Linked DNA regions of Homo sapiens: region 2 is linked to region 1. Evidence: fine-mapped expression QTL. A gene starts in region 1. The other region holds a variant in brackets. All regions are shown on one strand. Distances are from middle to middle. Region 1 holds the start of FBXL13 (F-box and leucine rich repeat protein 13). Region 2 holds the start of LOC124901713 (a long non-coding RNA gene).

What was found.
Region 2: its variant is fine-mapped to the expression of FBXL13 in whole blood (TOPMed, PIP above 0.99).

Annotation. Positions count from the first base shown.
Region 1 is chr7:103,066,287-103,082,115 of GRCh38, forward strand. FBXL13 (F-box and leucine rich repeat protein 13) reads right to left here and starts at 8,510. Exons shown (of 21, transcript NM_001394494.2): 1 at 8,410-8,510. The coding sequence starts at 8,484. ARMC10 (armadillo repeat containing 10) reads left to right here and starts at 8,854. Exons shown (of 7, transcript NM_031905.5): 1 at 8,854-9,125; 2 at 9,491-9,595. The coding sequence starts at 8,987. RefSeq lists a silencer at 8,441-9,280 and an enhancer at 9,551-9,600.
Region 2 is chr7:102,684,957-102,700,785 of GRCh38, forward strand. It overlaps LOC124901713 (a long non-coding RNA gene), which reads left to right and starts at 4,031. Exons shown (of 2, transcript XR_007060461.1): 1 at 4,031-4,128; 2 at 4,323-6,653. It also overlaps the pseudogene RASA4DP. The variant G/A (reference allele first, on the strand shown) is at 8,327.

The sequences.
Region 1 (15,829 bases):
GGTCACCTTAAACATCTTTCAATAAAATTTTACAAATTCCTCCAAACAGGTCTTTCACATCTTGTCCTAAGAAACCTTATATTTTTTGTGGCTATTATGAATGTAATTTCTTTTTTTTTTTTTGAGACAGAGTCTTACTCTGTTGCCCAGGCTGGAATGTAGCGGTGCGATCTCGGCTCACTGCAAGCTCTGCCTCCCGGGTTCACACCATTCTCCTGCCTCAGCCTCCTGAGCAGCTGGGACTACAGGCGCCCGCCATCACGCCCAGCTAATTTTTTTTGTATTTTTAGTAGAGACGAGGTTTTACCTTGTTAGCCAGGATGGTGTCAAGCTCCTGACCTCATGATCCACCCGCCTCAGCCTCCCAAAGCGCTGGGATTACAGGCGTGAGCCACTGCGCCCAGCCTATGAATGTAATTTTTAAAAGCTACTGTTTAAAACTTTGGTTCTAGTGAATTGAAATGCAATTGATTTTTTAATATTCAGTGGAAGAATTTTGTGAGGATTTTTTTTTTTTTTTTTGAGATGGAGTTTCGCTCTCATTGCCCAGGCTGGAGTGCAATGGCGTGATCGCAGCTCACCGCAACCTTCGCCTCCTGGGTTCAAGAGACTCCCCTGCCTCAGCCACTCGAGTAGCTGGGATTAAAGGCATGCGCCACCACGCCCAGCTAATTTTGTATTTTTAGTGATCTTTCTCCATGTTGGTCAGGCTGGTCTTGAACTCCAAACCTCAGGTGATCTGCCCGCCTCGGCCTCCCAAGAATTTTTTTTTTTTTGTCTACTCTTTCACTGTGGGTGTAATGGAATTGTCAGAAACTGAAAATACTAGGAAATGTAGGACTATGGATATTGAGAGCCCATTTGACAACTGAGGATTGAATTTAAAGTGACACAATTCAGTTTAATTGTGTGTTCTTCCTTTAAATAATGTTCAGTTGCTCAGGGGTAAGCACGGACTGCTGGATATTTGAGTTTTACCAGGGATGGGTGTTTGTCACATCAATAGGACAGAGGGAGAAACAGGTAAAGGAGATAATCGTATTTGAAAGTGATCATAATGATGGTGTGGTGGCATTTTAAAAGCATGTCTGCAAATGATATTTCTTACATAAAGAGGTGGGGTTTAATTCCTCTCCTCTTGAATATGGATTAGTCTTAATAATCCACTTGTAATGAAGAGAATACAGTGAAAGTGATGTTGAGTAACTTCTGGGGCTAGGTTATAAAAGGAGATTTTACTTGGCTCTGTCTCTTGGACACCTGTTTTGGGACCCAGCCTCCACGCTGTGAGGAAGCTCAAGCTACATGGAGATGTTACACATAGATGTTCTACCTGTCAGTCTCAGGAGAGGTCCTCATCGACAGCCAGCATCAACTGCCAGGCATGTAGGTAAGGAAGCCTTCAAGATGATTTTAACCTCAGCCACTCTGACATGTAAGTGCATGAGGGATCTCAAGCAATAATATTCTGTCAACTCCCATAACTGTGAGAGGCAATAATAAAATGAATACTGTTATTTTAAATCACTAAATGTTGTAAAGACATTTAGGTAATAGACATCCACAATAATGATGAACCAAGGAATCTAAGATGGGTAAAGAGAGAAATAAGGACATAAGAGTAATATTTGACAGTGCAAAGATAATTGAATGAAATGGTGGTTTGAGTCAGTTGAAGAAGTGCTAGTGTAGAAGCTCCAATGTGAGTGAGCTAAGAAATTAAGAGATAAGTGGATGAAGAAATGGAGATTTCAGAGATGGTACAGCAATTTAGGATAAAATGGTTAAGAGTATGACCATAGAAGGACATGACTGAGGAACGGTGAAAGCAAAGATAACTGGAAGAAAGGTCAAGGATGTGAACGGAACATCCCTGTGAATACTGCGGGCACAAGAACAATGACAGGAGTAGAGAAAAAGGAAGATGGTGAGCCAGATGCTAATGCTACCAACAAAACATAGAGATTGGTACATAATGAAGACAGTGAGTGCTAAATCTGATGTTATGAACTACAAAGAAGCTGAGACTTTAGAAAAAGGAGGGAAGATACATAGTTTGGAAGTGGAAATGGGGAGCCAAGGAAGACACCTAACCTATCTCTAGATCTGAGGTAAACTGAGGAGTGAAACAAGACAGTCTCCCTAGGATTTCATATCTGAGTAGGATGTGGAAAGTCACCATGGTCCAATGACCCTGCTACAACAACTAGAAAAAAACAGACACATTACAAAAATCACATTTAAAAAAGATATTGGCGAGCCATGGAATTCCAGGGGAAGGAAATTTTTCTGAAGTGAGCTGACAATGCACAGCTGCTTTTTTTCCCTGGGAACGTGTGCCAGCTCTGGGTAGGAAAGAGGACAGGGCTGGGCCCAGGCAGAGAAAGTCTACAAATGGGAAGAGAAACCAATAGGCTTATGGTGGTGGCACGGGGGTAACATGACAGGTTAGAAACTTGAGGTGCCCCAAGTGTGGCCACTGTCTCCCATAAGGCAGTGAGTTCTGGGAGTGTTCACACAGGAGGCTGAGGAGCTAGAACATCAACTCCTACAAGGCAGAGTGAGTCTTTCATAATCTCAGGGAAGGAAGAGGAAGCCTGCCTCAAACATACAGCCAGCATAACCTTCAATGTACTTGCCAGATTTTAAAGTTGAGGGCCCACGGCCACCACGCCATCTGGGAAGTAAGGAGCACCTCTGCCCAGCCGCCCCACCATCTGGGAAGTGAGGAGCGCCTCTGCCCGGCCGCCCCACCGTCTGGGAAGTGAGGAGCACCTCTGCCCGGCCGCCCCACCACCTGGGAAGTGAGGAGCACCTCTGCCTGGCTGTCGCCCCCTCTGGGAAGTGAGGAGGCCCTCTGCCCTGCCGCCCCACTGTCTGGGAAGTAAGGCGCACCTCTCCCTGGCTGCCCCACAGTCTGGGAAGAGAGGAGCGCCTCTGCCCAGCCGCTGCACCTTCTGGGAAGTGAGGAGCGCCTCTACCTGGTTGCCGCCCCATCTGGAAAGTGAGGAGCGCCTTTGCCCGGCCGTTGTGCAACCCTCGAAGTGTGAAGTGGCAGCCTTGTGTGTGATTTTTATGCCCTCCCCAAGTTTGCATTTTTGATATTAAAGTTTACTTTTAAAAGTTTTAAATTGGGGAATATATATACATATATAAAAGTTGAGGGCCTAGAAGGGAAACTAAAGAGCTAAGCTTAAATACCTCCGAAGAGCAGAACCAAATCTCTCACAATCTTTCAGTCTGAGGAGACAGAGACTGGCTAGCTTCTCAATCAAAAGCCCAGAAGAGCTATGCCTGAGGAATAGGGATGAACCAGATGTAAACCGAACCCAAATAAATCCACAGTCCAAGCTCAACACAGATCAGTCCCTTCCTGGACTGAGGTCATGAGCTCTGTACCCTATACAGAGGAAAGGACGAACCTTTGCTGGCGAAAGAGTATATCATCTGGAACTTCTATTGTTCTTTTCTCACACAATGTCCAATAAAAATAAGAAATTACTAGGTATGGGCTGGGCGCGGTGGCCCACGCCTGTAATCCCAGCACTTTGGGAGGCCGAGGCAGGTGGATCATGAGGTCAGGAGATCGAGACCATCCTGGCTAACACGGTGAAACCCCGTCTCTACTAAAAATACAAAAAAATTAGCCGGGCATGGTGGCAGGCGCCTGTAGTCCCAGCTACTCGGGAGGCTGAGGCAGGAGAATGGCGTGAAGCCAGGAGGCGGAGCTTGCAGTGAGCCGAGATCCCGCCACTGCACTCCAGCCTGGGCGACAGTGCAAGACTCTGTCTCAAAAAAAAAAAAAAAAAAGAAATTACTAGGTATGTATGAAGGCAGGAAAATGTCTTGAATTATCAACAGAAGAAAATAAGCAATAGAAGCAGACCCACAAATGATCTGGATATTCAAGTTAACAAACAATGATTTAATTTTATGTATTTATTTTATTTATTTATTTTTTTAGAGACACAGTCTCACTCCATCACCCAGGCTGGAGTGTAATGGTGTGATCTCAGCTCACTGCAACCTCTGCCTCCTGGGTTCAAGCGATTCTCATGCCTCAGCCTCCCAAATAGCTGGAATTACAGGCGTGCACCACACCTGGCAAATTTTTGTATTTTTAGTAGAGACAGGGTTTCAGCTGGTCTCGAACTCCTGGCCTCAAGTGATCCACCCACCTCGGCCTCCCAAAGTGCTAGAATTACAGGCATAAGCAACAAACAATAATTTTAAAATAACAACCATCAACATGTGTGTTGATCCATTTTGCACGGCTATAAAGAAATACCTGAGGCCAGGTAATTTATAAAGAAAAGAGTTGTATGCGGCTCAGGGTTCTGCAGGGTGTACAAGAAGCATGGTGCCAGCATCTGCTCGGCTTCTGGCGAAGGCCTCAGGAAGCTTTTACTCACTGCAGAAGGCAAAGGGAGCCAGCATGTAACATGGGAAGAGAAGGAGTAAGAGAAACAGCTAGAGGGAGGCTCTTCTAAACAACCAGCTCTTGGGTGAACTAATAGAGGGAGAACTCACTAATTATCACAGGGGAGGGCACAAAGCCATTCTTGAGGGATCTGCCCACATGACTCAAATACCTCCCACTGGGCCCCACCTCCAACACTGGGGATCAAATTTTAACAGATTTGGAGAGAACAAATAAAGAAAACAGAAAAAGGCAAACTGAATGAAAAGATGCATAATTCTAATAATCAGAATTTATTTAAACATCAAATTGTCATTCTAGAACTGAAAAACATGTCTAAAATTAAGATTTCATTTGATGTATTTAAGAGTAGACTGGACACAGCATAAAACAAAATTAGTAAACTTGAAAACCATCAATGAAAAAGATCCAAACTTGAGCTCAAAAAGAAGAAAATGGGGAAAAAGCAGAAGAGATCAAAAGAGGCATGTAGAACAAGGTAAAGAAAAAGAAAAAAAAAGCTAACATATGTACGATTGGAGTTCCAAAAGGAAAAGAGAGAACTGAATAGAAGTACTATTTGAAAAGAACCAAGAATTTTCTAAAACGGATGAAAAATATCTATCAACAGATTCAGTAAGCCCAGGGGACCAAGCAGGATTGTTTAAAATGTTTTTTAATTTTTTATTTTTTTAGAGATAGGGTCTTGCTCCATCACCCAGGCTGGAGTTCAGTGGTGCAATCATAGTTCACTGCAGCCTCAAATTCCTGGGCTCAAGTGATCCTCTCCTCTCAGCCTCATGAGTAGCAGGGACTACAGGTGTGAGCCACTAAGACAAGTTAGCTTTTTTTTTTTTTTTTTTTTAATTTTTGTACACACAGGGTCTCACTATGTTACCGAGGCTGGTCTTGAACTCCTGGCAAGCAATCCACCTGCCTTGGGCTCTCACAGTGCTGGGATTACAGGCATGAACCACCAAGCCAGGCCTGATTTTTAAAAAAATCAGTCTCTATTCAAGAGATTTGCAGGAAAATGATATTGTAGGTAGAAAATCAGGTTTTATTTAGGACAGGTAGATGAAATTCAGAAGAGGTTAAATATACAGGGAAAACTTTAATGAAAGGTTATTTATGTATTCCAAGGCTTGCAGAAGATGGGTTTTAGAAAAGTATAAAACCTGCCAGACATGGTGGGTCATGCTGTGGTGGGTCATGCCTGTAATCTCAGCACTTTGGGAGGCTGAGGCGGGTGGATCACCTGAGGTTAGGAGTTCGAGACCGGCCTGACCAACATGGTGAAACCCTGTCTCGACTAAAAATACAAAAATTAGCTGAGCATGGTGGCAGGTGCCTGTAGTCCCAGCTATTTGGGAGGCTGAGGCAGGAGAATCGCTTGAACCCAGGAGGCGGATGTTGCAGTGAGCTGAGATGGCACCACTGCACTCTAGACTGGGCGACAGAGCTAGACTCTGTCTCAAAAAAAAAAAAAGTATAAAACCCATCTGGGAAATTGAGTCAGATAAATAAATGTACAGACAGGATATGAGGCAGAATGGAATTCATCTTGATATTCTCTTAGAAGAAATGGGTAATGAGTTTAAGGTGGGTGTGTGGGGCCCAGAGGATTGCTCCTTTGCACTTCCTGCTAGTGTGCTAGCAGAGGTGAGTGAAGGACTCCTCAGGAGAACATGATCTTAGACAATGGAGAATGCATATAAGGGCCTCCTCTATGGGTGCAGAACAATGCAGTAAGCTGGTAAGGAAGGAATGCTTTCACCCAGAGGGGGAACTGGGGACTGCCTCATTGCAGCTTTGTGATGTTATAGTAACTGGCGGCCTAGATGAGAAGAGGCCATCCCTTCCTTGATGTACCCTGACTCTCAACTCAAGTCCATTTCTGCCACCTGCTCCACCGCCATATCACAGACTGAGCCATCACTCAGAATGGCTGCACCCTGAATTGTAAATATAAACGTTCCACTTTCTGACCCCCACCTCCTGTGTTTCCAGCTCCCTCACTTAATTACTCCCTCTACTTCTCTTCACTCACCTCTTAGAGGAGTCTTCACTTTCTGTCCATGTATCAGTATGATATCCTTTTCTCATTTCCCACTGAGTCCTTAGAGTCCTTGGCCCATCACTTCAGATACTCAGGAGCTTAGCTCCCTAACCTACTGCCTTTCCATTCTATTAATATATGCCTGGCAAATTCCTATCCCAGACGAAGTCAACTTGGTTATCTCTGTACCTACATCTGATTTACTGACTGCTACTTGAGAAAATCACACAACCGGGAAGATGGGTACCATTCTCCCTACATATTTTCAAGCACAATTGTATAGAGGTACAACACAAAACTCACTGTAATAAATTAAAACAATACAGCTATGGACAGAGTAAAAAGTTAGAATTCTCCATCTTTTCCCCCAAAACCATTCCACAAGACATCTGTTATTAACAGTTTGGCATAGGTTCTATGCATGCACTATTGTCTTAAAGCTAGATATATACACATATATGTACATAAACACATATACAACATATATGAAATCAAATGGACAGCTAGAGCAGAATGGACAGTTGCTAAGCAACTTGCACTTTTTCTTTTTTACTTAATAATATGTGTTGGGAGCCAGCCATGTGGTGTATGCCTGTAGTCCTAGCTACTTGGGAGGATGAGGTGGGAGGATCAATTGAGCCCAGGAGTTTGAGGCTGCAGTGAGCTAGGATGGAGCCACTACACCCTAGCCTGGGTGGCAGACCAACACCCCGTGTCTCAATAATAATGATGATAATAATAATATGTCTTGGAGGACATTTCTTCTTAGTAGGTACAGATATACTTTATTCTACATAATGCCTCATTCGCTTAGTCACTCTAGGTCATTTACTATTTTTACTATGAAACAAAGTTATAATGAATATCCTTGTACATCCTCCTGAACACATGTGCAAGTATTTCTCTAAAGTAGATCCCTAGAAGTAGAAATGCTTGGTTAAAGGGTACATGTATTTAACATCTTAATAAATATTTCTCAATTACCATCCAAAAAAGAGACGGGTGGGGGGTCTCTACCAAATTGCCCTCCCAACCGCCTAGGAGCGTTACTACCCTCAGGTAGGACCTCCTCTTTCTTTCCCTAGACATCTCTCTCCCTCATTCTCCACATAACGTATCTTTGCTCGAACCTCCTACTGCACCAACATCCCCATCCCCACTCAAACACGCACATTCTTGGTAAATATCTCACCAACTATTTGTAGAGAAAAAAAGAGGTCAACAAAGGCAAATGTTCTCAGCTTCCTACCCCCAAACCTACAAAACCTAATGTCTATCCCCTTCCTGTCTTCCTTCCCTACTCTTATAACGGCAGTAGGAGGGCAGTCCTTCCTGTTGTCTAAAGGCAATCCTGGTTGAGAGGGTCCTTACCTTCACAAAGGGCTGACTACACTGACCAAAGGTCTCAGCTTCCACTCTTCCCTCCGCTAACCTCCATCTATTTTCTGCCCTCACGGCTCCATGGAAACCTCAGGCTCACCTTGGGCAGAATCCAGCTCCTTATCTTAGGTGACTAGTGCCTACTCCCTACTTCTGACAACATTCTTCATAATGCCAGTCTGCTGATTTTCCTCCTCAGGCTCTCTGGCACTTCTTTCTCACTCCTCCACTCCTCAGGTACTTCTTGTCCAAACCTTAAAATCTGAGTTTGGGGTTTCCGATCTGGGCCTTGTGCTCATTCCCCCTGGGAGATGTCACCCATTCCCCACGTGCAGCCACCATCACCCTCTGTTTTCTCTCTAATCAGCGTCTTCAGCCCTGATCGCCTACAAGTCCGAATTTGACTTCACTTTCTCGCATTCTGCCCCGCCTTCCCTCCACTCCTCCCCAATCCCGAAACCTAGTCCCTCCTCCGGGAAGTCTTTCCTGACTCCTCCCCCTTCTAACTCCCCACCGACGGTCTGTGTCCGCTGCCACGCGTGTCCAGTACCTCGCAGACCTGAGGAATGTAGTTCTCCTTGAAGTAGTTCTTCAGCCTCGGGTTGGCATTGCGTAGCGAGGCCATGGCCCAAGGCCTGACGGAGAAGCTGCGATAGTACCCTCCCCGCGCTGGGACTAGGGGCCGGGCGCGTGCGGGCGTTGTCCCGGCAACCAGGGGGCGGGGCTGGGCGTGGCACCGCCCCGCGCTCCGCTGCCAGGGGCGGGAGGGAGGAATGGTTGCTTCACGCCCCGGGGGAAGAGACGGGAAGCTCGGCTCTGGGTTGCGGGCCCCGGCGTCTCCGCGTGGGGCGCACCGTCCGACCCCCCCCTCCCGGTGTGCAGCGCCCCGCACCGCCCCGCCTCGCCTGGGAGAAGCCGCCGGGACGCGCCGGGCTGGAGTGGGCGGTTATAGGCTTTGAGCTAGGCCGTTTCCGGGAGGCGGAGCTCAGACCCCATTTCCTTTCTCCACATCCAGGTCAGGTGGCGTTTGCTGTGGCGGCTAGGCCCGCGTGCGCTGGAGACCTCCGCGCTGGCCCCCGCGAGCCTCCTGCCCTGGCCCGGCGCTGCGGCTCTGCCGCGGCGGCAGCATGGGTGGCCCCCGGGGCGCGGGCTGGGTGGCGGCGGGCCTGCTGCTCGGCGCGGGCGCCTGCTACTGCATTTACAGGCTGACCCGGGGTCGGCGGCGGGGCGACCGCGAGCTCGGGATACGCTCTTCGAAGTCCGCAGGTGGGACCCCGGGGTTTCCGGCAGGTGGGCGGGGACTGGGCAGGGGGGCTCCCCAGGCCGGGGTGGTGGCTTGCGTGTGCTCGGGGTAAAATGAGGAGCCGAGCTAGAGGGAGAGGCAGTACTTGTGTGAGTGCAGGGTGCTGCGCCGCCCCCGCCGCCCCTTTGCTGACTATACTGGTATGAAAACTTGCCCTGGCTTTCCTGCCTGAGCTCCGCGTCACAGCGGAGGATTAGATTTCTTAAAAACCTGTTGATGGCCTCTCATTTTAAAGCTTGCTCCGGGCCTTTGTGTAACTAAAGGGATTCTCCCGATTGTGGAAGGGCTGTTGAGGGGCCCAGAGCCATAGGTCAATCTCTGCTTGCAGGTGCCCTGGAAGAAGGGACGTCAGAGGGTCAGTTGTGCGGGCGCTCGGCCCGGCCTCAGACGGGAGGTACCTGGGAGTCACAGTGGTCCAAGACCTCGCAGCCTGGTGTGTGTTTTGGAAATGGGAACAGTTGTCTGCGCGAGACACACCCTCCCAGCGGACAAATGCATGATTCGGTTTCTGTCCAAAAGTTGATCGGTACATTAAAACCCTCCAAAGGCATGTTTCACATCATGGAAGCTGTTAGGGAAATAATTTAAAATATCATATCTGCCATCCAAGAAACTCCTGTCCACAATTGTAGAAGAGAGCTAAACAGCTTCATTGTTGAATAAGCACAAACTAAATTGCCTCACACATCACGGGCAATTTGCTAATGGGATAGCAGGAAGAATTCTAATTCCTTTAAATGTAGCTGGACAGATAGAACCGATTTCATATTACATACGTGTTCTCAAGATAAAAAATAATTTGTCCTTAGGTAAGAGGACTTGACAGTACCATTTGCTACATGTAGTTTATCCTGAATTTACTGGTAATTGGGGTGGTTGTTATCTAATTGCCTTTATCCAGAGGAAAAATAAAAATATCTTTATGATGTGGAACCAGGTGCCCAGGCTAAAAACTCACAGAGTTGGGGAGATTGGGGATCTATCTTCCTGGAAGAGTAGGTTTCAAAGAGTACGCTTTCGAACAGTAGGCTCCAAAGCTTTTAAGAAAGTCTTTCTTGGGCTGTAAAACTGGCCAAATGCTTATTTCACTTTTAAAAAGATTTACAGGCTGGGTGTGGTGGCTCACACCTGTAATCCCAGCACTCTGGGAGGCCAAGGCAGGCGGATCATGTGGTCAGGAGTTCAAGACCAGCTTGACCAACATGGGGAAGCCCCATCTCTACTAAAAATACAAAAATTAGCCGGGCTTGGCGGTGGGTGCCTGTAATCCCAGCTACTCAGGAGGCTGAGGCAGGAGAATCACTTGAACCCAGGAGGCAGAGGTTGCAGTGTGCCAAGATTGCACCATTGCACTCCAGCTTGTGCGACAGAGCAAGATTCTGTCTCAAAAAACAAAAAACAAACAAAAAGATTTACATTTGTATCAAAGAAGCAGAAAAAGGAGTTTTGTTTTGTTTTCAGACAGGGACTCCCTCTGTCACCCAGGCTCGGTGCAGTGGCGCAATCACAGCTGCAGCGGCGCAATCACAGCTGCAGCCTCCACTTCCCTGGGCTCCTCCCACCTCACCCCACTAAGTAACTAGGACTACAGGTGCACACCGACACCTGGCTAATTTTTCCAATTTTTTAGGAGATGAGTTTTCACCATGTTGCCCAGGCTGATTTGAACTTGGCTTAAGCAGTGCTCCTGCCTCAGCATCCCGAAGTGCTGGAATTACAGGATTGAGCCTCCTCACCTGGCCAATAAAGGATTTTTAATTACAAGTTTGCACGAGGGAATGCTTTAAGAAAAAGGGAGTGGAAGGGGAAGGTCTCTCTCACTTTTGCCACTAGGTATAATTCAGCTTTTTTTTTTTAAAGATTTGTATGTACCCTTACTGTATTAGTCCATTTTCTGTTGCTTATAATAGAATATCTGAAACTGGGTAATTTATTAGGAAAGAAATTTATTTCTTAGAGTTATGGAAGCTGAGAAGTCCAAGATTGAGGGGCCGTAGCTGGTAAGGGCTTTCTTGTTGTGGCATAGGGCATCCCAAGGCCAGAGGGGCAAGTGTGTTAACATGCTGACTCAGGTCTCTTGTTCTTATAAAGCCACCAGTCCTGCTCATTAATCCATGAATGGATTAATTCATTCATGAGGACAGACCCCTCATGATCCAGTCACCTCTTAAAGGCCTTACCTCTCAATACTGCCACATTGGGAATTAAGTTTCGACATGAGTTTCGCAGGAGACATTCAAATCATAGCATTTACAAAGCCTAATTTGTTGTCTTTGCCCATGTCAGAGATATTTTTGTATAAGTACATTGGGAAGGTGTCCTGGACTCAGATATCTTCTCAGTTATACTGACTCAATCTGATGAATGTGGACAGTCTTTTAAACTTAACAGTTCCCATAATCATCATTATCTTAGGTAAGGCAGCTTAAAAAATAATTTGCTCACAGTCCCTTCTTCCTGAAGCTACTCCTTTATCATTGAAGAAGACTTGAGAAATGCTCATTTCATCATCAATATGGTTTGGCTTTGTGTCCCCACCCAAATCTCATCTTTTTCTTTTTTTTTGAGACGGAGTCGCACTCTGTCTCCCAGGCTGGAGTGCAGTGGCATGATCTCAGCTCACTGCAACCGCCACCTCATGGGTTCAAGCGATTCTCTTGCCTCGGCCTCCGGAGTAGCTGAGATGACAGGTACACACCATGTGCCTGGCGAATTTTTTTTGTATTTTTAGTAGAGACAGGGTTTCACCATGTTGGCCAGGTGATGTGCCTGCCTTAGCCTCCCAAAGTGCTGGAATTACAGGCATCAGCCACTGTGCCCGGCCCAAATGTTATCTTGAATTGTAATCCCATAATCCCTACATCGTGGGAGGGACCCGGTGGAAGGTAATTGAATCACGGGGGCAGTTCCCCTCCCCTCCATGCTCTTCTCGTGATAGTTCTCAGGAGATCTGATGGTTTTATTAGGGGCTTCCCCCTTTGCTCTGCACTCCTTCTCTTTCCTGCTGCCTATGAAGAAGGAAGTGTTTGCTTCCCCTTCCACCATGATTGTAAGTTTCCTGAGGCCTCCCCAGCCATGTGGAACTGTGAATCAATTAAACCTCTTTCCTTTATAAATTACCCAGTCTCGGGCAGTTCTTCATAGCAGCATGAGAATGGACTAATAAAGTCATCATCACGCTTAGATTTCAGAAGATGATCTTTTGTTTTTTGTTTGTTTTGTTTTTGTTTTTTTTTGAGACGGAGTCTTGCTCTGTTGCCCAGGCTGGAGTGCAGTGGCGATCTTTTCTTTGTTTTAAACTCACACCTCTAATCCCTTTGGGAGGCTGAGGTGGAAGAATCGCTTGAGCCCAGAGTTCAAAACCAGGCTGGGCAACATAGTGAAACCCCATCTCTACAAAAAATAGAAAAATTAGCCAGGCATGGTAGTGTGCACTTGTAGTCCCAGCTACTCAGGAGGCTGTTTTGGGAGAAACCCTTGAGCCCAGGAGGTCAAGGCTGCAGTAAGCTGTGATTGTGCCGCTGCTCTCCAGCCTGGACAAAAGAGCAAGACTCTGTCTTAAAAAATAAAAAATAAAATAATTTTTGTACTAACGTGGTTTGAGAGCATTGAAAAAGACGGAAACAGTCCCAATTCATCCAACAATCTAACGTCATAACCTGACAAGGATGGTAAGAAAAACTATAAATCTGTCTCAACTATGAATAAAGATATAAAAATCTTAAAATATTAGCAAGTCAAATCTATCAGGGGATTAAAGTAATAATATACCAAGGCCAAATGGACATGGAAGGAGGAGTCATACTAGAAAAAGGAAAAGCCACATGATGACCTCATAATAAAAAGGCATTAAAATATTTCTTTCCATAGCTGAAGCTCGGGGAAAAAAAAAGAAAAAAAATTTTATCATTTCTGATAAAAACTTGCAGCAAGTAAGGAATAAATAGAAGGAAATGTTCTTAAGTTGATCAAGTACATCCATCAAAACCCAAAAGCAAATATCGTATTTAATAGACACACTAGTTAGTAGCATCCTTATCAAACTCAAGAACAAGAGAAGGGTGTCTGCTATCACAGCTACTATTCAACGTTCTTCTGGAGTCATAGCTTGATAAGAAAACAACATGCATAAATATTGGAGGCAGAATTATAATCGTAGGTGGCATAATGATTTACTTGGAAAAATCCAAGAGAATTAACTAACTACTAGAAGCAATGAGTTTAATAAAATATCTTGAGTACAAGTAAATATACCCAAATCAATAACTTCTTGTATACATGCAGTAACAATTCAAAATTTTAATTGAAAATATTTTATTTGACAGAATGAGACCCTGTTTCAAAAAATATATATCATTCATGATAGCTATAAAAACTTTAAAAATTAGGAATTCACTTTAAAAACTAGGAGTTCCTGTAGTGAGAAGATAATTTTACTGAAGGGCCTAAGACTACATAAACAGGCATATTGTGTTCCCAGTTGGAAAGATTCTGAACCATGACAGTTATCTTGAAATTTGTCTTGCTACGTTATAATGTGGTAGTCACTTTTCATTCCCTTTGAGAATTCTAATTTCTCCTTGATTTACTGGAGGAGACCACAAACCACCGAGCCTAAGATTCTTTCACAGTCTTGTTGGCACAGAGCTAGATGGAAAGTAGAACACATGTTTGACTCCTCACCTGTGTAATAGCAGTCCAAAAACTCACCAGTGGAAGAGCTGAGTATTTGATGATCGCCCTCCTGTAAAATTTTTAGAGTTTTAAGTTTTACATTTCTTTACTAAAAAGTTATACATGGTTTTTGTTTTGTTTTGTTGTTTTGAGATGGAGTGTTGCTCTGTCGCCCAGGCTGGAGTGCTGTGGTGCGATCTCAGCTCACTGCAACCTCTGCCTCCCAGGTTCAAGTGATGCTTCTACCTCGGCCACCCGAGTAGCTGGGACTACAGGCATGTGCCACCACTGCTGGCTAATTTTTGTACTTTTAGTAGAGACGGGGTTTCACCATCTTGGCCAGGCTGGTCTCGAACTCCTGACCTCAGCTTATCTGCCTGCCTTGGCCTCCCAAAGTGGTGGGATTACAGGTGTGAGCCACCGTGCTGGGCCGATAAATGGTTTTTATTAGAAATTCAAAGAGAATATATAGAATTAAAGTATAGGCTCATTATTTTATTTTTTATTTATTCATTTATTTTTTGAGATGGAGTCTTGCTCTGTTGCCCAGGCTGGAGTGCAGTGGTGGGATCTCGGCTCACTGCAACCTCTGCCGCCCAGGTTCAAGCAATTCTTCTACCTCAGCCTCCGGAGTAGCTGAGATTACAGGCATGTGCCACCATGCCTGGCTAATTTTTGTATTTTTAGTAGAGACAGGGTTTCAGCATCTTGGCCAAGCTGGTCTTGCACTCCTAACCTCGTGATCCGCCCATCTCAGCCTCCCAGAGTGCTGGGATTACAGGTGTGAGCCACCGCATTCAGCTAGGCTCATTATATTAATATACTAGGAGGAATAATGGTTGAGAGGAAAGAGTAATGTAGGAGTAAAAAGATCTGGATTCTAAAGCCACTTTTGCTATTATTAATCAGCTATGTGTCCCATTAATGAAAATAATATACTAGTCACTTTAAATATTCTAGGTACAAAAGTGCTTTGAGGTAGGCACTATTAACTCCCACTTAGCAGATGAGTAAACTGAGGCTGAGAGAGCCTAAGTCTCTTACCTGGTAAGTAGCTTATTTGGGAATTTGAACTAGACAACCTGACCCCATAGCCTTGGCTTAGTTTTAACTACCACATTGTGCCTCTTCCCACCAAGTGAGAATTCTGTGATACAACACCGTGAAATTTTATCGTTAGTGATTTAATCCCTAGAAAAATTTTAAATGGCTATTTATAAAGAATTTATACATCTATAAGCTTTCTCTTTTTTAAAAACAAAAACAAAAACAAGGTTTCATTACTGTCACGCAAGCTGGAGTGCAGTGATGCAATCTCAGCTTACTGCAACCTCTGCCTCCCAGGCTCAAGCAATTTTCCCGCCTCGGCCTCCCGAGTACCTGGGATTACAAGGCATCCTGCACCACGCCTGGCTAATTTTTTTCTGTTTTTAGTAGAGATGGGGTTTCACCATGTTGGCCAGGCTGGTCTCAGACTCCTCAGTTCAAGTGATCTGCCCGCCTCAGCCTCCCAAAGTGCTGGGTTCACAGGCGTGAGCCACTGCACCCAGTCTATAAGCTTTTTAAAAATGACTTCATGAGATAACATAGAGTGGTATGATTTTGAAATATCTCAAATATGGATGAGTTAAATTTATCACATTTCTGCCATGCATGTGCACGTGTATGTATGCATGTGTATATGAAATCATACAACTTCAGGGCTGTGTAGGAAACTCTGGAGCCAGTTACAGTATTAAGCCAACCCTTTTATTTGCAGATGAGAAAACTGAGACCCCCAAAAATAGTAAGTGACTTACTTGTAACTTTGATTTTTCATTTCTGTGGTTTCTGCTACTAACTACCCCTGTGACTTTAGGCAGATCCTTGAACAATCCTGGCTTCAGTTTCTTCCTGTGTAAAATAAGAGGTTTGGATGAACCCCAAATTCTTTCCGTTCTAAAAAGTTGTGTTTTTATCATTCTTTCCTTTATCTTTTCAAGTATTCTTTGGG
Region 2 (15,829 bases), 380 kb before region 1:
GTCTCGCTCTGTCGCCAGGCTGGAGTGCAGTGGCACCATCTTGGCTTACTGCAACCTCTGCCTCCCAGGTTCAAGCAGTTCTCCTGCCTCAGCCTCCTGAGTAGCTGGGACTACAGGCCCACGCCGCCATGCCTGGCTAATTTTTTTTTTGTATTTTAGCAGAGATGGGGTTTCACCATGTTGCCTAGGCTCGTCTCTAACTCCTGAGCTCAGGCAATCCGCCTACCTTGGCCTCCCAAAGTGCTAGGATTACAGGCGTGAGCCACCACACCCGGCCAAAACAACATTTTTAAAAATGTGAAACTCAGGCCAGATGTGGTGGCTCACTCCTACAATCTCAGCACTTTGGGAGGCCGAGGCAGGAGGATTGCTTGAGCCTGGGAATTCAAGACCAGCCTGAACAACATAGCAAGACCCCACCTCTAAAACAATTTTTTTTAAATGAGCCAGGTGTGGTGATGCATGCCGGTAGTGCCAGCCTACTCAGAGGCTGAGGCAGGAGGATTGCTTGAGCCCAGGAGTTGGAGGCTGCAGTGAGCTATGATCGTGCCACTGCACTCCAGCCTGGGCAACAGAGCAAGACCCTGTTTTAAAAAATTAAACAAAAAAAACCCCTCAGCTCCTCAAGCCACATTTCAAGTGCTCAAGAACCACAGGTGCTAGAACCTAGAGTACTACACAGTATGGAGTCCTTCTAGAAGCTCCTCTATGCCATCCCTCTAGTGCCCAAGGCTCAGGGTCCCCTCCCACCCACAGCTCCGGATTCAGATGGCCAGCATTGGAGTGTGCGAACCCAGGGGCTCTCTGGCTCTCATTAGCAGGGGGCTCCTCGAATGTGTTCCTGAGAACACCTGTTCTGTAAGAAGCTCCTTGGGGAAGAGAAGGGTTCCCTGTCAAAAGAGTTTGGGAAGTGCTGGGTTAAACCACGTTAGAAATGGAATTCTAGGCCGGGCGTGGTGGCTCACACCTGTAATCCCAGCACTTTGGGAGGCCGAGGAGGGCAGATCACGAGGTCGGGAGTTCAAGACCAGCCTGGCCAACATGGTAAAACCCCGTCTTTACTGAAAATACAAAACTTAGCTGGGTGCAGTGGCTTGCGCCTGTAGTACTTGGGAGGCTGAGGCAGGAGAATCACTTGAGCCTGGGAAACGGAGATTGCAGTGAGCCGAGATTGCACCACTGCACTCCAGCCTGGATGATAGAGCGAGACTCAGTATCAAACAACAACAACAACAACAACAACAACAACAACAAAACAAGAGCAGCTTGACTAACATGGTGAAACCCCATCTCTAGTCAAAATACAAAAAAATTAGCTAGGCTTGGTGGCGAGTGCCGGTCATCCCAGCTACTGGGGAGGTTGAGGCAGGAGAATTGCTTGACCCTGGGAGGTGGAGATTGCAGCGAGCTGAGATCGTGCCATTGCACTCCAGTCTGGGGGACAGAGTGAAAGTCTGTGTCTGAAAAAAAAAAAAAAAAGAAGAAGAAGAAATAAAAAGAAATGGGATTCTAACGTGTTTTCGGGCCTCCTTAGAGCCTTCAGCGAATTCACTCATATGCATCACACACATCACGTGGCATTTCCCAAACCACCTGGTCCACGGGACCCTTTCTGCCCAGAGCTCCTGGAGGGGCCAGCATTCCTTGGGTTAGGTCCCTGCAGGTGCACAGCAGGGCTCAGGGTCCCATCGTTCAGCCAGAGGCCCGATCTCGCAGTGGACGGATGCAGAGCCCGGGACCCAGGCCTCCTCTCCCACCTGTCTTCTCTTTTTGGTGGCAGCAGCTCCACTTGTCCCCACGGAAGACGCCAGGGTGGTAGGAGCCCAGCAGTCCGGTGTTGTTGATGCTCACCTTCCACAGCGCAGACAGCCACTGGTTAAGCTCATTCACACACTGCAGGGGACACGGAGGGGGAGGCCTGTTCAGACGTCACCTCCTCCAGGAAGCCCTCCTAACCCGGAGCTCCTGTACCACGCCAGACGCCATGTTCCCCACCATACCAACCCAGCAGCTTTGAGTGAATTAGGAGAAGCTGCCCTTCCTCCAGTGGAACATGACCCATGCCCGGGCGCATGGCCTGGAGAGCAGGTGCAGTGGCTCACTCCTATAATCCCAGTGGCTCACTCCTATAATGCCATCATGGCTGGCTAATTCCTTTTTTTTAGAGATGGGGTCTTGCTACATTGGCCAGGCTGTTCTCAAACTCCTGGCCTCCAGTGATCCTCCCACCTCAGCCTCCCAAAGTGCTGGGACTACAGCTGGGATTATAGGGGGCCGAGGTGGGAGGATCGCTTGAGCCCAGGAATTCAAGACCAGCCTGGGCAACACAGCAAGACTTCATCCTCTCCTCTCCCACCTGTCTCGTCTTTTTGGTGGCAGCAGCTCCACTTGTCCCCACGGAAGGCACCGGGATGGTAGGAGCCCAGGAGGCTGGTGTGGGCTGGATTTCAGCCGCCGCTGGCCCCTTGGCCACGCTCGTAGGTATTCCAGAACCCGCCAAATATATTTGGTGGCCCTGATATCACTACTTTTCCCAGTGGCTCTGGACCCTGACACAAAAGGGAACTCCTAGAGGGAAGGGCACAGAGGGACAGGTCTGTGACTTCCTCCCCACAGGCCAGGACGGTCAAGCCCGGAAGAAACCAACCCCCCTCCAGCTGCAGGCTTCTTACTTGTCCCACATGTCCCTGCCCTAGACACACATCTGGGTCACCCTCCTACAAGGTCCCTGCTCGAATGCCACCCATCAGAGGTCCTCCCTGACCACTCTTTAATTAATTTACTAATTAATTAATTTATTTATTTTGAGATGGAGTCTTGCTCTGTCACCAGGCTGGAGTGCAGTGGCTCGATCTCAGCTCACTGCAACCTCCACCTCCCAGGTTCAAGTGATTCTCCTGCCTCAGCCCCCCAAGTAGCTGGGACTACAGGCACCCACCACCACACCCGGCTGATTTTTTGTATTTTTAGTAGAGACGGGGTTTCTCCATGTTGGCCAGGCTGGTCTCAAACTCCTAACCTCAAGTGATCCACCCGCCTTGGCCTCCCAAAGTCCTGGGATTACAGGCGTGAGCCACCGTGCCCGGCCCTCCTAGGTTCTGACAAGCAGTACAGATGCCACACACCTGGCTTTCTTCTCTGACCCCAGGGGTACCTCAAGTGGGCTCCAAGGAAGGGGACAGGTGCCCCACTTGCCGGCCTCTCAGAGCCCCACTTGCCGGCCTCCCTCCTTACCCACCTTGGAGCTGGGCGTCTTCGCGAAGCTGAGGGCCTCGGTAGTGAGGGAGAAGTAGAGCTTCTTGAAGGAGGAGGACATGAGGGGGCCCTTGCCCTTGGTCCTGTGGATGAAGAGTGGCCCCTCCTTCACAGGTGGCGCCTGCAAACTCAGCGTCCGCTGCAGGTCCAGCTCTGCCAGGCCAGGGAGGGAGGGGAATAGAGAGCCCAGTGAATGAGGGCGGGACTGGGGGGAGCGGAGCAGTGGGAGGGGCCATGGGGCTCAAGGGCTGAGCAAATCTGAACAGCAGGCAGTGGACGTAGTCATGGGGCTCAAGGGCGGAGCAAACATCAACAGCTGGTGGTGAGCGGGGTGACAGGTGGACTGAGGAAGGCAGGGCCATGGGCTTGGAGGCGGGACACGCGTCAGTAGCAGGTGGCGGCGGGGCTATGGAGCTCAAGGATGGAGCAAATGTCAACAGGCGCAGATGATGCGGGGGTGAGGCCATGGGTCTAGGGGTGGGGCAAACGTCAACGGCAGGCAGTGGGCAGGGTCACAGGAAGCACAAACAGTGGTGCGTGGGTCTATGGCCTGGGGGCCTGGCAAATGCCAACAGCAGGCGGTGGGTGGGGCCACGAGAGGAACAAACAGCGATGGGTGGGGCCGTGGGGCTCAAGGGCGGAGCAAACGTCAGCAGTAGGCTGTGGGCGGGTCTGTGCAGGGCGGCGCTCACCGTCCTTCTCCTCGATGTCCACGAGCTTGGTGATGAAGTCCTTCAGCTGCGCCACGCCCTGGCGCACGGTGGGCTGCAGCGGCTCCATCCAAGCCTCCTTGGCCCTGGAAGCCGGCGTGTCCATGTTGCCCACGTTCTGGACTGCCTGGAGGTGACAGCAGGAAGGACCAGGTTCTGCTAGGTTAGGGGCCTAGCCACTGCACCCCCTCCCACCCCCCCTCCCCAAGTCTTTGCTACTCAGCTGTAGCGATGGAGGCAGAGGCGACAGAGGCCATGCCCACGGGCCCCCTCCAGCCCCACTAGGGATCAGGGAGGAGAGGATCATGAAGTTTGATGCCTTATGATAACTGAGACCACTTGGGCCTTCCTCTGTAGGTTTAACTGACGCTGCTGCACTGGATACCCCACCCCGGTGCCGGGCACATAGGTGCAGCCTGAGAGTAAGCAGACCCGGGTTGGAAGGTCCCGCGATTCACCACCGACAGGATGGGCGGCCTTGGCAACCCCCGACCCCTCGCAGGCCTGTTCCCTTATCCATGAGATGGAGCTCGGACAAGGTGGCCACAGGAAGGCTTTGCAAACTGTGAAGTGCAGTGCCTACGTGGGCGTGCCAGTGGCCTCGCCGGAGCCGGTAGGGAACACTCTGCAGTCCAGGCCAGGGCCCCGGTAGGACACCCAGCTGTGCATCCCGCCCGTGGCCGCAAGGCCCGCACCTTAGCCAACAGGAGCAGGGTGCGGCTGGTGCGGGCGTCCGCGTGGCGCTCCCGCAGGTGGAAGAGCTTGGGCGACATGATGGCGGGGGAGAAGAAGCGCAGGCACAGGAAGCTGGTGACGGCGATGAACGGTACATTCTGGAGGGGTGCGGAAGAGCGCGGGCTGGAGTCCCCCAGACCAGGGCTCCTGGCAGCCCCCTCCCCTTAGGCTCTGTCCCTGACCCTCGCTGCGACACAGCCTCCCTGGTCCTCCCCAGCGCTCCCTGGTTCCCCACCGCTCTTCACTCCTCGCCCCAGCCCAGTCCAACCCGGCCCAGCCTAGCCCAGCGGGTGGAGGGCGCACCTCGTGCTGGGCGCCGGGGAAGCGCTCGCGCACGCGCCGGAAGAGCTGGCGGAAGGTGGCGCGCACCACGGCGGGGCACGCGCGAACCGAGCGGCTGAGCGCGCTCAGCAGGGCCCCCAGGTGGGCGCGCAGCGTCTGCGCGCTCTGCTCCAGCACCTCGGCCTCGGTCTGCGGGCGGTGCAGCCTGGAGCACCTGCGTGGAACGGGGCGGGTTGGCAGAGGAGGTCGCGGTCAGCGCCAGGGCCACGACAGGAACAGTGGCTCTCACAGCAGCCAGGACACGGACACAGGGGACAATACACGGGTGGGCAGAAGCACAAACACACATGCTGACAGGGCCTGATCCCAACCCGCTGCCGCTGCACCCCGCAACCCCCGGAGTTACCCCCGGCCTCACCCTACATCCTTAACTTCCACTTTGCTGGGGTCCAGCTCCACGTACTTCTTCTCCTCAAACACCTTGTTGATGATGGGGCCCAGGACGCCGTGCAGGTACTGCATCCCGGCCACCTGGGGACCACCGCAGGTCACATTGATCCTGTCTCCCCCAGTCCCACTCCAGCTGCCCACCTTCTCCCGGCAGCCGCCCTTGCACCGTTTGCCTGCCGTATCCGCCCAGGAGGGGGCCAGGTACACATGCAGGGCAAACTGTTTATTCATGAATGAATGAATGAGTGAGTGAATGAATGACTAGAATTCTTAGCCCTTGTAATCCTAGCACTTTGGGAGGCCAAGGCAGGAGGATCACTTGAGGCCAGGAGTTTGAGACCAGCCTGGGCAACATAGTGAGACTGTCTCTAACTTAAATTTTAATCACACACACATTCTCTTTGGGGGGGGGTGCGGGGCACGGAGTCTAGCACGGGGCCCAGGCTAGAGTGCAGTGGCGTGAGCTCACTACAACCTCTGGCTCCTGGTTCAAGTGAGTCTCCTGCCTCAGCCTCCCCAGTAGCTGGGATTACAGGTGCCCACCACCATGCCAGGCTAATTTTTGTATTTTTAGTAGAGATGGGGTTTCGCCATGTTGGCCAGGCTGGTCTCGAACTCCTGACCTTAAGTGATCCGCCCGCCTCAGCCTCCCAAAGTGCTGCAATTACAGGCATGAGCCACTATGCCCAGCCACATTCTTAACCTTAAAGGGCTCTGAATATGGAGATAGAACACTGGAGTCGAAGTCCCAGCCCCCTCTGTCGCTCTCTCTGAAGCTCAGTGACTACTCCAGTATTAAATGATGCATGTATAAAGTTAGTCACTCTATCATTATCTGTAATAGCAGATGATTGGAAATGACCTAAATGTCTCATAATAAGGAACTAGTTTTAAAAAGCATGTTCCATTCATGCCTTGAAATACTATACATTGAAAAAATAAAAATTGTATAAATATGTGAAAAAAACAGTGTGTATATTATACTACGACTTACTTCTTTGTGCATAGATGTTCTACAAGGCTATATAAAAGATTGTTAATTATGGTTGTCTCTTGGGAGGGGGAGTTTAGATTGTATAATGGGGTAGAAGGCTGACTTTTCGTTGTTTACTATTCTGCACCTTCTGGATTTTGTACTATGTATATATTTTATATATTAAAATAGCTTTATATAAATAAAACTAGCCCCATGGCTGAATAAATTTTATTACAATTTTCTTATGATTCCCTGATACTCTGTTCCTTAACTTCCTAGTCTGGCTTGCATCTCACTGCTTGACCATTGAGAACCTGATCTTGCTTGCCTAATGAAAACTTTAGTAATTGTCTTGTCTTAGCTAACTTTACTGGGTTGACTCCTGCTAACTCATTTTACTGATTTACCTGTAAGTCTGGTTACCAGATGGACAAATTCCCAATCCTACTCCCTTCTGTTTATTTGCCAAGGAATCTACCCAACAGACAACAGTACCCTCTCTCTACCTATATATTAATACATTTTTTGTTGAAAAAGGTATTTTATTTTAATCCTTAAGCTTCCATCTTTAGTCCCCAATGTATTAAAATAGTGATTGCATTACTAAAGAGACTGTTTTACAAGATGCACATTCACCTAAGAGCCACGAGCTTTCCAAAGCCAACCTTCTCTCAAAGGAGAAAATACTATTATTTCTCCTAGTACTTATTTTGAAGAGCAACATCCGTTCAGCGACTATTTAGAAAGCCAGTATCAAAGTTTAGATTATTATTTTTAATATTTAATCAAGTTGCTACAACAGTAGTTAACAATCAATGAAAAATAAAGAGGTGATTAAAATGTATTAACTATGTAATTAAACACATGCACATACACATACAAACTAGGATCTCATTATGTCAGTAAAGAACTAGAAAAGGATAAAGGAGAAGAGAGGCAAATAAACCACACAAACAGAGGGACAGATGGGCCACTGAGGGTAGGGCCACTGCTGCGTTTTCCTCCCATTCCTAGCCTTGGGTTTGGCATATTGTAGATGCTCAGGAAAGATTTTTCAGAATGAGTTAAGGAAGATAATCTCACAGATTGTATGTGAGGAGGTAAAGGACCAATTTTTCTTTATCTTTCTTCTTCTCTGTCCCCTTTTCAACATCCTTCTGACTCCCTCTTACCACTAAGCACAGCTTGTTCAAATAGAGTTGTTCTGACAATACCCCAGATTCCTGGCCAAAATCAATCTCCATGTTTGTCATTTTAAAGATGCCAAGAGGAGGACATCCTAACACAGTGCCTTCTTTCCTCTTACCCTGACCTCTTCTGCAGTGTACCATTTAACTGAATTGAGGGGTATTAATCTACTTTGCAAAGTGGAATATGGCCTGTATTCTTATAATCTTAGCATCAATATTCAATCTTTGTAAATGGATTTAGTTATGTTGATATCTCAAATATTTAAGTGCATTACAAGGTCTTCTTCCATACTGGAAAAGTTTTTAAATTTCCACCCCACTGTCAGAGTAAAAACAATAATAACAAAAATATGGGAACAATAGAACCTATCTGTACTGTTCAATAAACTATCCGTCTCTTTGAAGATTCTTGACAGCCAAGGAAAATCTTGAAAAATTATTATTCTTGCAAGGGTGCCTAGATGTCTGAAGGAAAAGCGAAAACATGTCAATAATAGCAAGATTTGCAGGAAGGTTTATAAAAGAAAATTGGTCATTTTTTAAAGCACAGCCTATAAGTACAGCTGTTAGTGAGGGGTGATAACTAAGGAGAGGATGGGGAAACATACTAGAAATATTTAAACAGAGTGTACATAGTTATCTTTGTTTTAATACACAGTCTACTTTAAAAGTCAAATTGTAAAACCTAAAATAGCAGTGTTTAAATGTGTGAATGTCAAGTGAAATGC[G/A]CGCTGAAGCAGGAAACGGAAGATTGGGTTCCAAATTCCACCCCGATGTGTAACCCAGGGCGAGTCTCAATCTTCCAGAATCTTTAAGATGGAAATAGCAATATCTCAAACCTCCTATTACAGAATCATTCTGAAAAGTAAGTTTACATACTTGAAACTACTTCGTAAGCTCCTTGAGGGTGGGGTTCTTATCTTTTCCCCTTTATAACCAGTTACTTAAGGTATAAAAAAATAGAAAATATTTAATTCCTCGAAAAAAATTGAAATGTCATTAGGGATTATCTCAAGAAGCTCATTAGTAACTCTATAGAAGGTCCAACCTACAAAATAAATGAAGCTTTAGTAGCGTCAGCAAATCACCGATACTTTCAGTAATTAAAACTTTAGTTTAATTTTAGGCCAGGTGCAGGGGTTTACACCTGTAATCCCAGCATTTTGAGAGGCCGAGGTGGGTAGATCACTTGAGCCCGGGAGTTTGAGACCAGCCTGGACAACATGGTGAAACTCTATCTCTACATAAAATACAAAAATCAGCCAGGCCTGGTGTTATGTGTCTGTGGTCCCAGCTACTCCAGGGGCTGAGGTGGGAGGATTGCTTGAGCCCAGAAGGTAGAAGTTGCAGTGAGCTGAGATTGTGTCACTGCACTTCAGTCTGGGCAACAGAGACAGACTTTACATCAAAGAAATTTATTTAAAAAACCAACATTTATTTATCTGGTACCAGCCTTAAGAGAACAAAATATATAGAAAATAAAGCATCTTTTGAATATGTGAATATCCTCATAAAAAAAGATAATTTTACAAGTATGAAATTAGGTAAACAATGGCAGCATCTTTTTTTAAATACACAGTGGTAGACCGTGTTGTTAAATATACATAGGTATCAAGTTGCAATTCTTTCAGAAAGCATTCTGATTACTATATCAACAACCTACCGTGTCTACTACACCTCTGGCCAGAGACTTCCCCCATAGGCTCAGATCCACATACTGGACATTCCCTTCAGACCTGTTGCTTCTTCTGAACTCTCATGTATGGTGCCATAATTTGGCTGATTTCCTAAATCAGAATGCCAAGCATCAATTTAGAATCTTTTCCTCACCCACTCCATCCACTCAGACACTAAGTCTATAGAATTTTATACTTCCTTAACATCTCTCCTAAATGTATTCACTCCTTTTTTCCTCATTGCCAATGCCACTGTGCAGTCTCTCTTCACATCTTCATCACTGAAACGGCATTCTAACTGGTGAGATGGTAGGAATGGAAAACACAAATTCAAGAGATATTAACAAGAGAGAACCAACTGACAGAACCCAGGAGCAGAGTTCGGTTCCGGAGAAGGATAATGGATTTAGTTGTGAGTATGTTTAGTTTGAGGTACTTTGGGGTCATCTACATGAAGATATTCCAAGTATGTGCATACATGGGTATGGGCAAAGAAACCAGATTCATAGTGGACCCTGTGTATATGGATGCAATATCCCCTTTCATGTCTTACTGCCTTAAAAGCCTTTCTAGACCGTCTCATCCCACAGCAGTCAAGCCTCCCTTTCCCTTCTGATAACACTGCTTGTATCCTCTGGGTCCAAAATCATATGCCTTTTGTTGACATTTAATATTTCAATCTTCTTGTTCACAAATAATGCTTCTAAAGAATAGGAACCTTTTTATGCTTTATGTCCATAAATTCTCATGGTATCTAGCATAATCCAGCACACAGGAGGTGCTCAAAACCAAGGAGGAGTTGAAGGGATGAATTTCAGTAGCTTTAGTAATAATAATTATAAACATCTAGCACAGTGCCTGGCACATAGTGAATGCTGTATCTTTTATCTTTTAAATAGATTAAGACTTAATGTCCAAAATTATTGTTCACAAGGTTCTTGACATCTTAATACTCACCAAATCTGACATGCAACTGAAACTTGGACACAAATGCTGCTATTACATATTTTGTAAGAAGTACAACCACTCATAGTTTTATATATAACCTGTTTTCGTGAAAAGGTCATATATTAACAAACTTAATCCATCTTCATCATTGCCCATGATGATTGGTACACATCCACACTCTACTTTTAGTTTCATATTCTATTTTGATTCGTAGTTTTACTTCCTCGGTGTTTCCCTACAATGTTTGTTCTCCCTTTTATGCCTCCCAAATGCAATGCTCCTATGCCTCCTTTTTTCCACCCCTTGGCTAAGTCAGGTCAAAGACTTACTTAACAATGATTGGAACAATAATTATTTTCAGGAAATAAAGAGAAGGGAGGAGATGCCTGGCTCTTGGTAAAAAGCAAAGAGCCAATTATTTCGCTTAGGCGAAATAATTTAATGTTTTGATTTTGGCTCACAGCATTAAGACAAAAATGATTTTACGGCCTCCAAGTCGTGGAAAAGTTCAGCATCTGACACACTGACCCTTGACAAGTGAGGCCACATTTATAAATCAGTGCTGTTTTACATAAGCACATACAGATAGAAGTAGAAATCCTAACTAGGGAATACCGTGAAAGCTATCACTTGTATTAACCCTGGACATGTGACAGCATCTAACATAATACCCATTGGAGTGTATGCTGGTTCAACCTCTTTGGAAAACTGATTGAAGGTCTTTACTAAAGCTGAATATAAACCTAGACTATGACAGATTAACCCCACTCCTGTGTATATACCCAAGATAAGTTCATTCTTAAGTACAAGGCATGCATAAGAATGATCACAGAACTTTATTCATTATCTTCAAAACAGGAAATAATCCATTTTTATAAACAAAATAGAATGGATCAACAAATTATGGTATATTTACACAGTAGTGAGGTAGGAGGCAGAACTCGACTTTGGAGGTGGGGCTTGGACATCACACCAAATTGAGGACTAGCTAAAAGAGGTCTGAGGCAGAAGCACCTCCCCCATTAGACACCAGTGTGCCATGTTAGTTTACTGTTGCCATGGTAACATCAGGAAGTTACTGCCCCTTTCCATGGCATCAACCCGACAACCTGCAAGTTACCAACCTCATTCTAGAAATTTCTGCATAAACCAGTCCTTAATTTGCATCTAATTAAAAGTGGATATAAATTTGAGTGCAGAACTGCCTCTGAGCTCCTATTCCAGGTACACTGCCTATGGGGTATCCCTGCTCCACAAGGATCAGAACCTCTGCTGCTGCAGTTCACTGCCACTTCAATAAAAGTTGCTGTTTAACATCACAACCCTCTCAAGGGCAAGCCTCAATTTGGGGGCTTGACTGTCCTGTATCATCAGGATACTAAGAAGCAATAAAAAAAGAAATGGAACTACCACCACGCATAATGCTATTAATGAACCTCACAACTATAAAAGTGAGCAAAAGCAGCCAGACACAAAGAAAAACATACTGTATGACTCCATTTAAATGATGTTCAAGAAGAGACAAACTAATATATGATAAGCCAGTAGAGTGGTTATCTTGGGTGGGAGCAATGACTGGGAAGGTCTCAAGGGAGACCTCAGGTTCCTGGAAGTAGATCCTGATCAGACTGAGAATATGGTGGGAGAAGAGATAAATCAATGAGATACATATTTAAAGGAGATATTTAACTCTCAAACTGACAAAGAGAATACAGATGATTGGGAGAAGAATGACAAATTCAGTTATGGACATGTTGGTTATAAGCATACATAAAAAACCTGATCTGTACACTTAATATTTGTGAGGTTTACTCTATATGTTATACCTTAAATAAAAATTAACAATATAAAGAAAATGGGACAGGATTAAATATCCAATAGGACAAAAAAAAGTCTGGAGTACCAGGCCTCATAGTTACGCAGCAATGGCCAATTTGGGGAGCAGGTGTCCTACATTAACCCACACAACCCATTGATGGGAGTTGTGTGGCTTGGTTTCCAAACATCACTTAATCACTTTTGTTTTTGAGACGCAGTTTCACTTGTTGCCCAGACTGGAGCGCAATGGTGTGATCTGGGCTCACTGCAACCTCTGCCTCCCAGGTTCAAGCAATTCTCCTGCCTCAGCCTCCTGAGTAGCTGGGATTACAGGCATGCACCACCACACCTGGCTAATTTTTGTATTTTTAGTAGAGACGGGGTTTCGCCATGTTGGCCAGGCTGGTCTGGAACCCCTGACCTCAGGTGATCCGCTCACCTCAGCCTCCCAAAATGCTGCAATTACAGGCATGAGCCACTGCGCCCAGCCCCAAGCATCACTTTGAACATTCATTCCAAGGAGTGAATTAACACAGTGTAGTTCCTGCCCTGTTAGGTCTTATTGCGATCATAGGTCTTAATGTGATCATAATGTCAGTGGGGAACTCTAAATTTTCTTTTTCTTCTTAAAAAAAATAAAGGGATAAGTGTGCAGAATGTGCAGGTTTGTTCCATAGGTCTACGTGTGCCATGGTGGTTTGCTGCCCCTATTGACCTGTCTCTAATTTCCCTCCCCTCAGCCCCCAACCCCCAAACAGGCCCTGGTGTGTGTTGTTCCCCTCTCTGTGTCCATGTGTTCTCAATGGAACTCTACATTTCCTATGCAAAATATTTTATGCTGATTAGTCAAGTGATGTGGGAAGAGTTGAGAGGTTGGAGAAACCCCTGTGAGCTGGCTACTCAGGCAGTTCCCTGAAGGACAAGAGATTTGAGCCAGGATCTCAAAGGTTAGGAACAGACCCAGGGGTTGCAAAGTGCAGTCTATGCAAGCATTTTGTTTGGTTTTTTAGTATGTATGGCACAGCTTAAAAGCAATGGAGGCAATACGACTAGGCAGATTGGTGGATAGCCATGATCTTACATCATGTATTTTGAATTTATGCCAGTTTCCTTAGACATCTGACGTTATTCCTTCTAAATATGGGAGAGTCCCTGCTGAGCGGAACAACATAAAGAGTAGCTCTTGAGAATCTAAGTGAATGACTAGATTGTAAAAGTAGTTTGGGTATAAATTGCAGAGGCCTGTGAATGTCATACTGAACACACTCTTCAGGCAATATGAGACGAGAGCATGACAACCATGCATTGCAACTTGGCAGTGCTGGGACAACTGTGCAACTAGCATTAATAACAATGAATGATATAAGCAGTTTCTGTGTTTTCCAATGTTATGCCAAGCAACTGGACCCTTGGAAGTGGATTTGACTGCTTTCCTTCAGTTGTCATCTGCACTTTTGCCATTTTTGCAGATACAGTTTCTGTTTAAACAACTGAAGGAAGACAAAGAGGTTAAAAGACAAAGACAACTGAAGGAATATAAAGTAGGTTATACACAGTATGTTAAAAACTTGTGAGACCCATAAATTTTAGAGTAATCCTAAAAGAATTAGAAAATAAATTTACAGATGCCAATTAGGAACAATATCTTAGTGGTGTTGTTATGGAAATAAAGTTTTCTCAAGCCAATAATTCTGAATATTCCGAAAGTTTGCAATTTGTCACTGCTTTGAGGAGGAGTTCTCAGGCAGTAAAATTGCTGATATTGATACTACTCAAAAGTGTACGTAGCACAGTTCTTTGAAACTATTATTGAAAGCTCTTGGATATAATTATCAGAGGCCTGTTATACCCAGCGATTAATAACTATAAATTATGCATCCATGTATATTGAGAGATTCTTGAAATATTTATTGTTAGATTGAGGATCAACATGCATGAGAAGTTGTCCTAAGTTCTTTAATTTTGCAAAACAAACCTTAATCTTTGGCTTAGAAAACCTTGAAGATAATCTTTACTATTAGCATAACTTTTGCTACAAATAAACTCAAGTTGTTGTGATTTTTACTGTTATGGCTTCTTTATAAACTGGTCTTAAGGTCACTCTGTGAAGAGTGGCTACAAGCCAAGATAGCTGCTTTTTAGAAGAGCCCTGACGGGCAGGCCGTCAGGTTCCTGTGTGTGAGTCAGGTGAGATACAATGACAACAATGAGAAGGTGAAACCAAACGCATGAAACAGAAGAAATTTATTACTTACAGATCTGACAGCTTAGGGGTGCTGATGGGGAGCGCAGATAAGTCTGGAGGTGGCAGGGAGCTCAGCAGTGGGTAGGGAGTGAGAGAGCAGCTGTGGGAGTTCACCTTTATTAAGGTATATGGGTATTATCCCTCCGGTCTTCTAACAGGAGTTGTGGATTGGCTGGTTTAAGGAAAACACGCCAGAAGGGGGAAACTTATTTATATGACTCTGGTGTTGATCATTAGGTTTTATCACGGTTAGCAGCTGTGGGGTGTTTTGGGTTTGGGATTAGCAGGATGAGAAACAAGTGGGCTATATCTCCACCACACGGGGAGGAGTTATTTTAACTAGTACAAAGATCAGGTATGATTGGGTTTCAAACAACTTATGTCAGACCTAAAAATGCATGACCTTACATCATAAGTGTATGTTGAGTCAACGTCTTTGGTAGCTACTATATCAAACAAATGTATGACACAAGTTTAGCCTTATTTTTGATTTGATTATTAAGGGTAGTGGTGGAGAAGTAGAAATTCTATTGCAAAGTTCGACATATGATGGATTTTGACAGAAATGTGAACTCTTCACTTAAAATTTAAGATTAGAGGAAGGAAATCATGGTTTTAAAAATACAAAGATAAGCATTTCTTTTTCTCCATACCTTTGCCAGCATCCATTGTTTTTGACTTTTTAATAATAGTCATTCTGACTGGTGGGAGATAATATCTCATTGTGGTTTTGACTTGTATTTCTCTGATAATTAGTGATGCTGAGCACTTTTTCCTACTTTTGTTGGCCACATGTATGTCTTCTTTTGAGAAACGTCTGTTCATGTCCTTTGCCTATTTTTAAAATGGGGTTATTTGTTTTTTGCTTGTTGATTTGTCTAAGTTCCTTATAGATTCCGGATATCAGACCTTTCTCAGATGCAGTTTGCAAATATTTTCTCCCATTCTGTAGATTGTCTGTTTACTCTGTTGATGGTTTCTTTTGCTGTGAAGAGGCTCTTTAGTTTAGTTCAGCCACTGTGGAAAGCAGTTTGGAGATTTCTCAAATAACTTAAAACAGAGCTACCATTCAACCCAGCAATCCCATTACTGGGTATAAAACCAAAGGAAAATAGATCATTCTACCAAAAAGACACATGCATTCATACATTCATCACCACACTATTAATAACAAAGATGTGGAATCAATCTAGTGGCCCATCAGTGGGGGATTGGATAAAGAAAGTGTGTTATATATATACACCACAGAATACTATGCAACCATATAGGAGGATGAAATCATGTCCTTCACAGAGACATAGAAGAGCTGGAGACCATAATCCTGAGTGAATTAATGCAGGAAAAGAAAACCAGACACTGCATATTCTCATTTATAAGTGGGAGCTATACACTGAGCACACATGGACAAAAACATGAGAATAACAGACACTGCAGACTACTAGAGAGTGGAGGGAGGAAGGGGAGTGTGGGTTGAAAAACTACCTACTGGGTACTAGGCTTACCACCTGGATGCAATATGCCCATGTACAAAACCTGTACATGTA